3 linked regions of the Homo sapiens genome follow. The protein of the gene in region 2 purifies or fractionates together with the protein of the main gene of each other region. This does not show direct contact. Each region holds a gene or a part of one and is shown on either strand. Other genes may lie near its edges.

Region 1 (3,642 bases), on a different chromosome or scaffold from region 2:
AGCTCTTCCTCAGGCTGAGCGGAAGTCAGCCCCCGGAAGGCTGCCCCTTGGTCCTGACTGCTAGTCCACACAACAGGCCTCCCAGCAACGGAAGACGGCTAGGATAACTTTTCTGAGCCTTAGTTCCCTCCTCTGCAAAATAGGGCCAAGATCATCACTCCGACCCACCAAGCAGCGTTGAGAGCGCCGATGGCGCAACTACCCCCAAGGCCAGTAAAGAAAGGTGGCATGGGCAGGGCATGGCAGCTCACGCCTATAATTCCAGCACTTTGGGAGGCCGAGGCGGGCAGATCACGAGGTCAGGAGACTGAGACAATCTGGCTAACACAGTGAAACCCTGTCTCTACTAAAAATACAAAAAATTAGCCAGGTGTGGTGGCAGCGCCTGTAGTCCCAGCTACTTGGGAGGCTGAAGCAGGAGAATTGCCTGAACCTGGGAGGCGGAGGTTGCAGTGAGCCGAGATCACGCCACTGCACTCCAGCCTGGGCCACAAGAGCGAGACTCTGTCTCAAAAAAAAAAAAAAAAAAAAAAAAAAAAAAAGGCGGCATCGAGCCAGGTCCTCCTTGGAGGATTGCTCACTACCTTTAGAGGCAGCATGTTCCACATTTCAGCAGTTCTAGGACACACATGCTTAGTCTGGGATTAAATCTGCTCCCTCCCATGGGTCTTTAAGCGAGTTGCAGGTGGGGGCTGGGACTCTGGGTGGTGGGGAAGTCCAGCAGGAGAAGCAGGAAGGAGGAAGACGTCTTGAGGTCTGACCACTTCTTTACCCAGCAGCCTTCCAGCCTGCCCCACACTCCTTAACTTGGAGGAAAAAACAACCGGGTTCCCTGGCCAGCGCGCGGGGTGAAGAGGCCTCTGTTAGCCAGGAGTTTCGGGCCTGGCTGGGGGCCCGGCCTTGGGTCCTCACCTGGAAACCTCCCTGCAGGTGCTGACTCCTAGACGGGGCTGTCCACAGGGCAGAGCTTGGGTGGCTGGACAGATGGGGGCAAGGCTGGGTGGGCCGGGGGAGGGCTTTTGGCTCACACAGCTCAGGCAGCCCTGGCTCCACCTCAGAAACCTCTTTCCCACCTGGATCGGGCCCAGCAGAATTCTGCCTGGTGGAATTTCCACAGGATGGCACCCTAGGCTCTGACCTGTAGCCTTCAACCCCGCATGGGGGTTGGGAACTTGGGCTCCAGGCCAGACTGAGCTGGGTTCAAATCCAAGCTCTGCCACTCCCTGGCTATGGAATGCGGGGGTCATTTCTCTCAACTCACAGTATTAGTTTCCTCTTTTGTAGATTGAGTAATGACAGCATCTACACTTGAAGAGTTAATACAAGGATTAAATGTGAAAACGCTTACAAAACATCCCTAGTCTGTGTCCACAACAGACACAAGTATGTTGAAGGTGCTCAAAAATAACACCTGCGCCTCCTTAGGCCCCCTGTGCCAGGCATTGTGCATAGCGTTTAGTGTTTTGCACATAAATGCAATGAATCTCCCCGTAACTCCATCAAGCAGATAGACCATTGCTATTCCCTTTTTATAGAGATCTTGAAGTTCATACAGATTCAGTGACTTGCCCAACAGTAAATGCCATTCGCTTCTGTCACTGTTTTGCACTATTTTGCCAGGGAGGCTCTGGACACAGGGTGTAGGCCACCGTGTTGTGCACTATGTATCAAGTGCCATGCTCAGAAACGCTGAACGTGGAGCTGGACTCTCACCCCTACAGGGTGACAGTCACTCCTAGGGGAAGGACAAGGCAGTGCCAGTGCCAGTGCCCTGGAGAGGTGATCTAGACCTTGGCCTGCATCACCATCGGCCGATGGCAGCAGGATGGGGGGCATCTCCAGGGGCTGGCTAATGGCTGGTACCAGGGGCTTATCCACCTGTCCTGATACTGGAGGCTGAGTTGGGTCTCTTCCCACTTTTTCTTCCATTCCCACGAGGGCCATGGGATTAGGGAAGAGGCATCCCTCTTTGCCTCTGGGATCCAGGCCCAGCTCCATGGCCTCTGGTCTCAGGAATCCCTGGAACCTGTGTCTGACTGTGGAGCAGCCCTATCTGAGCCGTCACTCAGAGCTGTCCAGCCAGATGGTGCCTACTGTGTCTCAGGTCTGGAGCATTCAGCCGCCTTCAGGGTCCCGGTCCTCACACTCAATGGTGGGCTTCTCCCAGGACCCGCTTTGTAAAGGAGAAAGATAAGGGCAGAGTCCACAACCCCTCTCTGTCTTTGCTGACTCAGAAAACACATCTCCAGGACCAAAGCATTGCTCCTGCTGGAGTGTCCAAGACAGGGAGCCACCTAAGCCTTGGGATGATATGGAGGATACCCATTCTGATTTGATCTGGAAAGTAGTGGTTCTCATAGTGACCACCACAGCTAGCCTGAGGCAGAGGTCAAACTCCCAGCAGGGCAGAGGTGATGATGGAAGGGATCATCTGGACCAAACAACAAAAGGGCCACAGAGGGACAGCAGAACAAACCGCTCGGCAGGGAGGGGCTTTTCCACGCCTGCAGTGTAGCCATCCTGAATGGGCATAAGAGATAGCAGTGGGCACTGGGCTTTTGGGGAAAGTCTTCTTTTGGGGGTGGGGATAGCGTGTATTTCCATGTTGCTCCTCTCCACATTCATGGATATCTTTTAAGTATCAACATCCCTTGGGGTGGGGCAAAGGAGGTATTTATGTTCAGAGGTCACAATGGGAAGGTCAGGCCAATACACTGCTCAGACAAGGAGCTTACACTGGGCTGTTCTCTGCAAGGAGACAGATGACTGGCTGGACCCAAGGGCAGCCCCAACTCGGAAACATGGCAAGGGCTGGGTGTGAAGGGCATGGCCCAATGAGATCTAGGTCCCTGGCTGTGCCAATCAGACCAGTTCTCTCTGGGTCTTGACAGAGCATGGAGAGGAGTGATTTACTACTAGCAAGAAAACAGAGTAAAAAGCAGAGACAAGAGGGGAGGGGGAGAAGATTCAGCTTCTGCAGATTCCCAATGACAAGGCCCCGCTATTAACTCCCTTTTCTTAGCTGGTGGGCACAGATGGCATCTGTAGTTTTGCTCTGTTTAAAAGAAAGAGGGGACCAGTGGGGCCCCCCCGGAGCCAGCATGGAAGTGCTAGTAGAGACTGAAGCTAAGGAAGCCCAAGACTGTGGCTCACCTGAAGGTCAAAATGGTAATTCACGCTGACCCCCTCCCAACGCCCCCACCCCCGCTGCCTCATCTACTCAGTGGCTGGGTAGGGGCTAGGAAGATACTCGTGGGCCTGTTGAGGAAAGGCGGGTGGATCGGTTTTGGTGGTGGTGGCACCACCCCTGTGAACTCTGGCAGCCTGAGTCACCTCCACAGAGCAGGCTGAGGACCTGAATTGTGCCTGGGAGGAGGGGGTAGGGGGAGGCAGGTGAGATAAGAGCTCCCCCGGTGAGCCTGGAGACTCTCAGCCCTGCAGGGCAGGAACAACAGTGAGCACCTCAGCCAGGTGGGGATCTGGCCCGGAATGGCTACAGACTGGGATTGGACATCCAAGGGAGAATGTGGGATAGGACGTGGCAGCTCAGTGGTGGGCTAGGGCCTGGCAGGTTGCAGGTGTTTGTCAGTTCCTAGCACATGCCAGGCTCCTTGATGTCTCAGCCTCGTGAAAGTCCTGTGG
Region 2 (4,365 bases):
TTAGGGGCCCCATGTGGCTGCATCCAGCTCCCGTTCACACTACCTGGAACTGGAAGCTCACTCCTCCCTTCCCAGTTCACCAATCCTTCTTCAAGGACAGAGAAGCTGTCCCCAAAGCTTCCCCAGCTCCCTGCTCTAGCACCCCCAAATGCTATGGTCCTAGGAGAGCCCAGCAGGGTGTCCCAGTAGAGACCACCATGCCCCTGTCCTCTCTCATGACACCCTCCCCAGCCAACCAGTCCCCAGGTGGACCCCTGAACTAGTGGAGAGTCCAGCAGGGTGTCCCGGTAGAGACCACCATGCCCCTGTCCTCTCTCATGACACCCTCTCCAGCTGACCAGTCCCAGGCGGACTCCTAAGCACTAGCTCTGCTTTCCTGAGGTCCCTCTCCGATTTTGTGATGAGCAGCTCTCCAAGAGTTTTGACCTCCACAGAGCAAGATTATCACCTCCTTTGCTCTAGATGTTATGCTCCTAGTAACACAGCCTTAAGCTCCTCAGGTGTTTTGGATTCCTCAGTGTCCAGGTGGTCTCTGCAGCCAACACACCGATCATCTCCCCCGCCCACCCAAAGCTGTGTGTAACCAGCTTATGGCTGCCTGTCCATTAGATTCCCCTCTCACCTGCAGGGAGCAGCTGAGTCCCCTTGCCCCAGGCAGAGGAGGCCGACCCCCCAGTCCAGACCTGCTTTACTGATGCTCAATGTGGGCTGGGCACCGTGCTGAGCTCCGAGGGGTGTGGGGATTGGGGAAGGGGGACTGATACATCTTCCAACAAGACCAGGATAGACCGTACAGGCTGCTGTGTGGAGGAAGGACAAGCCGGGCAGAGGACAGAGCCTGGGAGGGTCAGGAGTGGCAGGAGTGGGGGGAGCTGCTGTGGCCAGAGAACCTGGGGAGCTCATGGGGACCCTGCCAGCGAAAGCCATGCGGGCAGGCTGGGCCCTGTATAGTCCTCGAACACCGCATAAGAGCTGTGGCTTCAGGCAGGCACAGTGGCTCACACCTGTAATCCCAGCACTTTGGGAGGCCAAGGTGGGCAGATTGCCTGAGCTCAGGAGTTCAAGACCAGCCTGGGCAACATGGTGAAACCCCGTCTCTACTAAAATACAAAAAATTAGCCGGGCATGGTGGTACATGCCTGTAGTCCCAGCTAGTCGGGAGGCTGAGGCAGGAGAATCACTTGAATCCAGGAGGCAGAGGTTGGATTGAGCCGAGATTGTGCCACTGCACTCCAGCCTGGGCGACAGAGCGAGACTCCGTCTCAAAAAAAATGAAAAAAAAAAAAAATAAAGTTTTTATTAAACATAAAAAAGGAGCTATGGCTGACCCCTGGGGGCAGCTGGGAGTTGGGTGCAGAGGCTCTGGGTTACATAGGAGAGCGCGGGCTGCGTTGGGGGGTGGGGGAGACCAGAAGCCAGGGGCCAGGAGGAGGCTGCTGCAGGGGCCATAGGGACGGGGAAGGGGGCCAGCTGGCCACAGAGGGATGACATGGGCGGGGAAAGGGCTGTGTGGACAGGTGGTGACTGTGTGGTCAGGGGGTGCCACTCTCAGCTTGAATCATCCTCAGGGGACTCACCTGGCGACACATAGGTGGGGGCAGGAAGACGGATTTCTGTAAGAAGAACCCAGCTGGGTGGGGTGGAGCTGGGGCCACTGGTGATCCTACCCCAATAGGAAAGCTTCCTGGAGGAAGTTTCCGGAGCCAGGTGTCATCAGGCTGGAGAGAGTCCCCCGCCCTCCAACTCAAAGGGAGCAGGCTCAGGATGGAGGAGGCATCGGCGAGGGAGAGCTTTGGCCCTGGAGCGTAGGCAACCTTGAGGCCAGGCAGGTGGAGTAGCCCACAGAGAGGGACTCCTGGGCACCCGGCCCTCCCGTGTCCAGTCACGGCCTGATGAGGATGGGCAGCCTCTATGGCTTTCCCCATCCCCACGTGGCCTTTGGTGGACTAAAAGGCTGGGATGCACCGAGCGTGAAGGAGACAGAAGAAGGGCACGTCTCTTGCCCCTCCCAGGGCCTCTGGTTTCCTTTCTGAGAAGTGGGCTGAATGGTCCCCAAGGACTCTGTGGCCCTGAGAGCTGGTTGCTCTCTCTCTTCTCTGGGCCCGAGAATGTGGCCTGCCCTGGGCCTCTGGGGCAGGAGAGGCTCAGGGAACTCTGGACTAGGGCCGCAGCAGCTATCATTAGCTCCCTGAGTCACCCCGTAAACCCCACGTTCTCACCTGCTGGACTCTCTTGTTGCCCTGGCCCTCCCTCTCTCTCCCAATCCCTGACACTGATTGAAATGGCCTTTCCCGGGCGACAGACCAGGCCGCGGAGCCACAGCTGCTGACTCAGCACCTGTGAGATGCCTGGGCCCCGTCTGTCTCCCACGGTGGGGCCACCTCCTCCCATCCTGAACTCCCATCACAATCCTGCCCCAGAAAGCCACCTCCCTGGGTCAGCCTCGGGAGGCAGGAGCCTCTCCTCTGCCCCCAGCAGTGGTGAGATTGAGATGTCCCTCCCCAGGATTCCCAAACCTCAGGGGAATGTTCCTGAGTCTGTAAGGACCTATATTCTCACACATCCCTACAGCCAAGAGTGCAGCCAAGAGTGCCTCCCTACAGCCAAGAGTGGGCCCCTGGCTGGGGCCCAAGCTCCTTCCAACCCTCCTCCCAAGGCCTATTGGCCAAGGGCAGACATGGCCCAGAGGACCTCTGAGGGCCACGCTCTGGGCTCCCCAGGGGCCTTGGAGATCACCAGCTGCCTTGTGCACAGAAGACTCACCTGGTGAGGTTCTGGGTGGTCGTGGCAACCCTTGCCCTGAGATCACCGCATGTCTGGGGCCCAAGGCCCCCGGGTGGGACTGTGGCTGAGGCGGCGGGAAGCTCTCATTGCAGGCAGAGGGATGGCTGGAATGAGGCGTCAGAGGCAGAACTGGCTGAGCCACCTGCCCTCGGCGCCAGGCAGGCCACGCCCACCAGCCACAGCTGCAGCACCCGCCCACCCACGTGGCCCGTGTGAGTCACCCCCACACCCACACAGCAGCCTCATCCCCACCGGAGAAAAGGCAGGGGAGGCCGCAGGTGCCAAGATCGAAGTTGTGGGTCCAACTCCTCCCTCTCTGGCATTCCATGCTGGGCAGGGACTGCCCATCTCAGGCCTATTTTTCCAACTAGGAAATGGGAATGATAACATCTACTTTCCAAGGGAGCCGTGAAGAGCCAAAGAGATCACAGAGGTGGGAGGGCCTAGTGAAGAGTCAAGCGCTCTGCTCTGTCCCCTGGGAGGGAAGACCGCAGCCCAGGCCTAGCCTGGTTGACCTCAGGGTGGCCAGCCCCAAGACTCGGCACTTGTTCTCAAAAGTCGGTTCCTGGGATCAGGTCTCTCGGGGACGGAAGTCCCCATTTAATGCTGTCCACCAGCAGTCACGCATCATGGCCCTTAGTGTCAGCCTCACCCCTTCCTGGCTGAATGACCTTAGCAGGTCATTTCTCCGAGCCTCAGTCTCCTCATCTGTGAAACGTGCTTCATAAACCCACTTTGCAAGGTTATCGTGGGGCTTCAACAAGTACAAGTAGAAAGGGCCAGAACAAGGCCCAGGGCACGGCAAGAACTCAATAAACAATGTCAGCTCTTAGCTATGATTGCTTTTGTCATCTCAATGTATTCTCCCAGCAACTGCCCAGGTTGCCCTTCTCCAAGGCCAGGGCGTCATAGAAGGAATCGGTGCCCTCTCTCCTGGCCCAGGCTGCAGCTGTGAAGTGGGTGGAGTGAGTCAGGATGGCCGTGTGTGTCTCGCGTCACTCAGGAACTGCACACCTGCTCCCCGGGGCGAGATGTGGACAAGACACAGCTGGGACAGAGCAGGAAGTCTCTGCTGACGCGGCCGCAGCTGGCGCCTGATGGGCAGGGAAATCCCCAGCTGTGAGCCTCTCAATCCCTCATCATCACAACCTGCCTGGCCTGGGGAGGAGGCAGGAGGCAGGTGAGGCTTCTAGGCCACGGGAGAGCAGGACCTATGGCCGGTAAGGGGCAGACCAGACTTGAGGGTGTGGGTGAAGCAGGAGACCGCTTCTGCCGTTGAAGTCAGGGGGTCCTGAAGTTCCCACTCACAATCTGAAATCTCATGACTGTGCCTGAAACTCGACCGGAAAAGCCCGATCTGGGGTTGAGCACGGCCTCCGGCCACTAGCTTACTCACCCTCTCCCGACCCAGCCCCGCGCCCTCCCTGTTTGCCTCTGGCGGCTCAGACGCCTGGGGAGGAAGCTGCTGCCAAATGTCAGTGCTTCCATTTTGCTCGTGTTCATAACTTTTCTCAGAGGGCAGGTGGGAGCTGGTGAAAAAGGCCCCTGTCTCCCACCCAGAGGTGTGCCCTGTGCCCAGCA
Region 3 (3,642 bases), on a different chromosome or scaffold from region 2:
CCTGCGTCCAAGGGCCTTTTGTCCTGTTAGCAATTGAGGTGTGCAGAGCACTGTACAGACCCCACTCCCCTGTACATTCCTCCCTGGAGGTGCCCGGTCCCCGCTTGGGGATGGGAGTTTTGTAGACTGTACAGAAATCGGCACCCTATTTTCTTGCAGCTCAGATTTTGTTAATCTGGAATATACAGACAGACGTAAAGTGTTTTAGCAAAATGGAAACAAACAGTTGTGCCTTTTTCCTCTTTTGGTTTGGTTTGGGTTTGGCCTGGGGCTGGTCCCAGTTGGTGCGGGGCATGCTGGGGGCAGGAGGGGCAGGGCGGGCCAGGTGGAGTCAGGTCTTGGGGGTGTCATGTCGGGGTGCTGCCAGCGTCCCTTGGTCCTGTGCCTTTGGAGCCTCGGGCTCCTGGGGTGCAGGGTGCTTGGGGGTGGCTGTTGGAGCCCACCGACGCCAGGGCAGGGCCTGGAGGCCCAGGGACTGCCAGTGTCTCCTTGATATTGATCCTAGCAGATCCCCCTCCTGGGGGTTCTGAGAGTCCTGGGCAGTGTGGCCTTCTCTCATTCTGGTGGCATCTGCGCCCGTGAGTGACCTCTTCCTTGGCTGCACTGCCCTGTGGGTGGTGAGACGCTTGGCCTTTTTTGTTGCTGCCAGGACTTGGTAGAGATGGCAGGAAGGGTGTGCGGGGTGGTTGTGTGCAGAACCCTGCCGCCCCTGAGGTGAGCAGAGGCACTGGTGTGCCTGCCAGGCTGGGGCGGAGCTGCCCGGAACCCTTGCCAGGCCAATGTGTAGCTTGGTGGCGCCCTTGAAGGCCACTGGGGGGTAGGTGTGTCCTCCCCCGGGGCTGGAGGCCGGGTGCCTGGTGGGTGGGCCTGACCTGGCCCACCTCATCCCTCCAGCCTGGGATCTCACTGCTCTGCACATGTGCACTGACGTGAATTTTATACGTTTGTAGAAACTCTGATGTAACTTCTTCTACCTCTGAAGCGCCCTCCTGGGCCCTGCTGTCACGTGGCTGGTGCGGCTTCCCCGAGTGCTGGCCCCCTGCCCGCTCCCCATGGGCACCCACCACTCAAACTCTGCGTGGTGAGGCCCGGGGAAAGCCAGGCCGGGCCCTAGCACTGCTCAGGGGCCTGGGGCTCCTGGGATTTCTGTGTGTTTGGAAGCCTCTGTTTTTGGAGTGGGGGGCGTGGAAGGCGGGAGGGGCTGACAGTGCCTGGGGCCAGAGCTGGGCGAAGGAGGACATCCTCACTGGACGAGCACTGCAGGCCTGACGAGAGGCTCCGGGCAGCTGAGGGCTGAAGCGCCTCGGGATGCCCCACACTGCCCAGAGCCACGGGTCTTGCTGTGCTGGGGGTGGGGTGGCCCCAGGCAGCTGCCACTGCCCAGGTGTGAGTCGCTGCAGACCTGGTCCCTGAGGGTGGGAGGCCTGCTTGTGCTGAAGCTGCCATGTGGTCTGGCCCCCAGAAGGGCTCCTGAGCGTAGGGAGTTGAGCCCCGCAGCCGTGGCGGCATCTCCTCCTCCTTCCTCCGCCCCATGCCCAGCCTTGCTTCCGGCTGGTGGCATGCCTTGGGGCCGGGCAGCAGGTGAGAAGCTGCCCCCGGAGGGAGGGGCCAAGGGCTGGGTCAGTCTGGCCTGAGGGGTGGATGGCTGGCCCTGGGGGAAGGCTGGGCCTGGGAGGCCCTGTGGACAGCAGGCCTGAGGCCACGAGGTCCTGGGGCCACCCCTCTCCTGCTCTGGGTGTCCTTCTCAGAGAAGATGGCAGAAGGCTGCAGGCCCTAGAGGGGACGACGGGCTGGGGACGCCCTGAGCTTCCTGGCTGTGTGGCAGGTGCTGGGGAAGCTCTCTGGGCCATAGGGACCTGGCTCCCCTCTGAGAGGCCCGCCTGCCCTGGGGCACCCAGGGCTGTGCTGGTGGCCTGAGGCTGGGAACTTGGGTTCCTGGGCTCTGCTGGCGCCTGGGCTTTGTGGGGGCCGAAGGTGGTTGCCCCGCCGGGCAGGGGGCTGTGTGGGCCCTCGTGGGGCCACCTTCCTGTCAGTGCCCGAGGGACGGTGGGACAGTTGCCCCTGCGCCAAGGGAGCCCACTGCCATCCCCCGTGGGCTGGCGCTGCAGTCGCGCACCCTGTGTTGCCTGCTGACTTGCTTATGTCTGTTTGGAAGCTGCTTCTGTTTGGCCACAGGCCTGTGTTCCTGGGCTGATGGCCACAGAGCTGACACTTGGGGTTTGAGTTCCAGACTTGCAGACCCTGGGATCCGCTTACTCCTCCGCGCCACGGCTGCTGTGCTTCCAGAGGTGGCGTGATGCCTCCCGGGGCCATGGTGGGGTGAAGGATGGCGAGCCGGACATACCATTGTTGGATGTATTTTTTTTAAAACAGCAATAATTAGCCATTTTAAAGGAGGGATGTACCTGTGTGTGTGCATGTGCACGTGTTTGAGCGTGTGTGTGTGTGCAAGTGGGTTCTTGGATATGTGTAGTGTGAGCATGTGTGCATGTGTGAGCCTGTGCACGTGCATGTTGTAGGTGCATAAGCATGTACACGCGTGAGCATGCATGTGTGTGTACACGTGTATAGGTGTACATGTGCATGAGTTGTGTACATGCGTGAGCACGTGTATAGATGTACGTGTGTGTGCGCATGTGTGCGTGTACATGTGTTTGTGTCTTGGGTATGCATAAGCATGCACGTGTGTATGAATGTGCGTGTGTATGCATGAGCACGTATGCATGTGTGATGCGCATGTTCTTGTGTACTTCTCTGAGGGGGCACATATGTATGAGTGTATGAGTGCATACATATGCATATGGTGTACGTGTGTGTACTTTGTGTGTGGGCATGTATGCGTATGAGTACTTGTGTGTGGCTGGTGTATGGGTGAGCATGCACATGTGTATGGATGCATATGTGAGCTGTACATGTAGAGTGTACATGTGTGTTGCATGAGCATGCATGCGTGCGAGTGCCTGTGTGTGTACTTGCATATATGTGGCTGTGCAGGTACCCGGCGGTGGTGGGCTGGCAGTGCCCGGGGAAGCAGGTCCTGCTCACGGCTTCCCTGCTGGGCCCCAGGCCCCGGGCTGAGCCTCCCTGGCCCCTCTTGCCCCTCAGTGGAGCAGGGCCTGGGTGGAGGGCCTGGGCAGCTCCAGGGCAGGTCCGGGGAGGCCAGGCTTGGGGAGCACAGGGGGTGGGGTTCACCTGCTGCTGTTTGTTCCCGAAACTGTACTGTGAGCCCACGGCGGGGGCAGATTGTTCTGAGGCCCCAGATGTGCCAAAACAGCCCCCAGGGTGGGGGCGAGCGAGTTCTGAGGAGAGGGGCTGCGGGGGCCGGGGGTGGGTGTGTGCCCCTCCCCTGAATGGCCCCCAATGCTGCTGTTTTTCAATAAAACCAGAGTTGAAGGCACCTGGCTCCCGTGCTCTCTTGAGGCGCTTCCTGCCCACTGTGTGGCAGGGCTGGCTTTCAGGGATGTGGCCCCACCCTTGGTTGCCCAGTTTGGCCCCCGCCGCCTCCCCCTTCTCCCCTGGCCACCCCCTTTCCCCACCTCGGCTCCCCTACACCTGGCCAGGCTGCCCTGCAGCCAGCACTGCCCCCTGGAGGGAGTGTAATCCAGGAGGTGGGGCAGGGGGGCTTGGTGGCCCCATGGGCTG

Evidence for each region.
Region 1: the proteins of TRPV3 (region 2) and MMP15 purify together in Homo sapiens (affinity purification with mass spectrometry; one large-scale study listed by BioGRID and IntAct). This does not show direct contact.
Region 3: the proteins of TRPV3 (region 2) and NAT8L purify together in Homo sapiens (affinity purification with mass spectrometry; one large-scale study listed by BioGRID and IntAct). This does not show direct contact.

Annotation. Positions count from the first base shown.
Region 1 is NC_000016.10:58,028,754-58,032,395, reverse strand, and holds part of MMP15 (matrix metalloproteinase-15 preproprotein), read right to left. Parts: intron 1-3,642. UniProt on the Homo sapiens protein: Endopeptidase that degrades various components of the extracellular matrix. May activate progelatinase A.
Region 2 is NC_000017.11:3,554,913-3,559,277, forward strand, and holds the start of TRPV3 (transient receptor potential cation channel subfamily V member 3), read right to left. Parts: upstream 2,901-4,365; 5' UTR 2,764-2,900; intron 1-2,763. UniProt on the Homo sapiens protein: Non-selective calcium permeant cation channel. It is activated by innocuous (warm) temperatures and shows an increased response at noxious temperatures greater than 39 degrees Celsius. Activation exhibits an outward rectification.
Region 3 is NC_000004.12:2,065,693-2,069,334, forward strand, and holds the end of NAT8L (N-acetylaspartate synthetase), read left to right. Parts: 3' UTR 1-3,397; downstream 3,398-3,642. UniProt on the Homo sapiens protein: Catalyzes the synthesis of N-acetylaspartate acid (NAA) from L-aspartate and acetyl-CoA. Promotes dopamine uptake by regulating TNF-alpha expression. Attenuates methamphetamine-induced inhibition of dopamine uptake.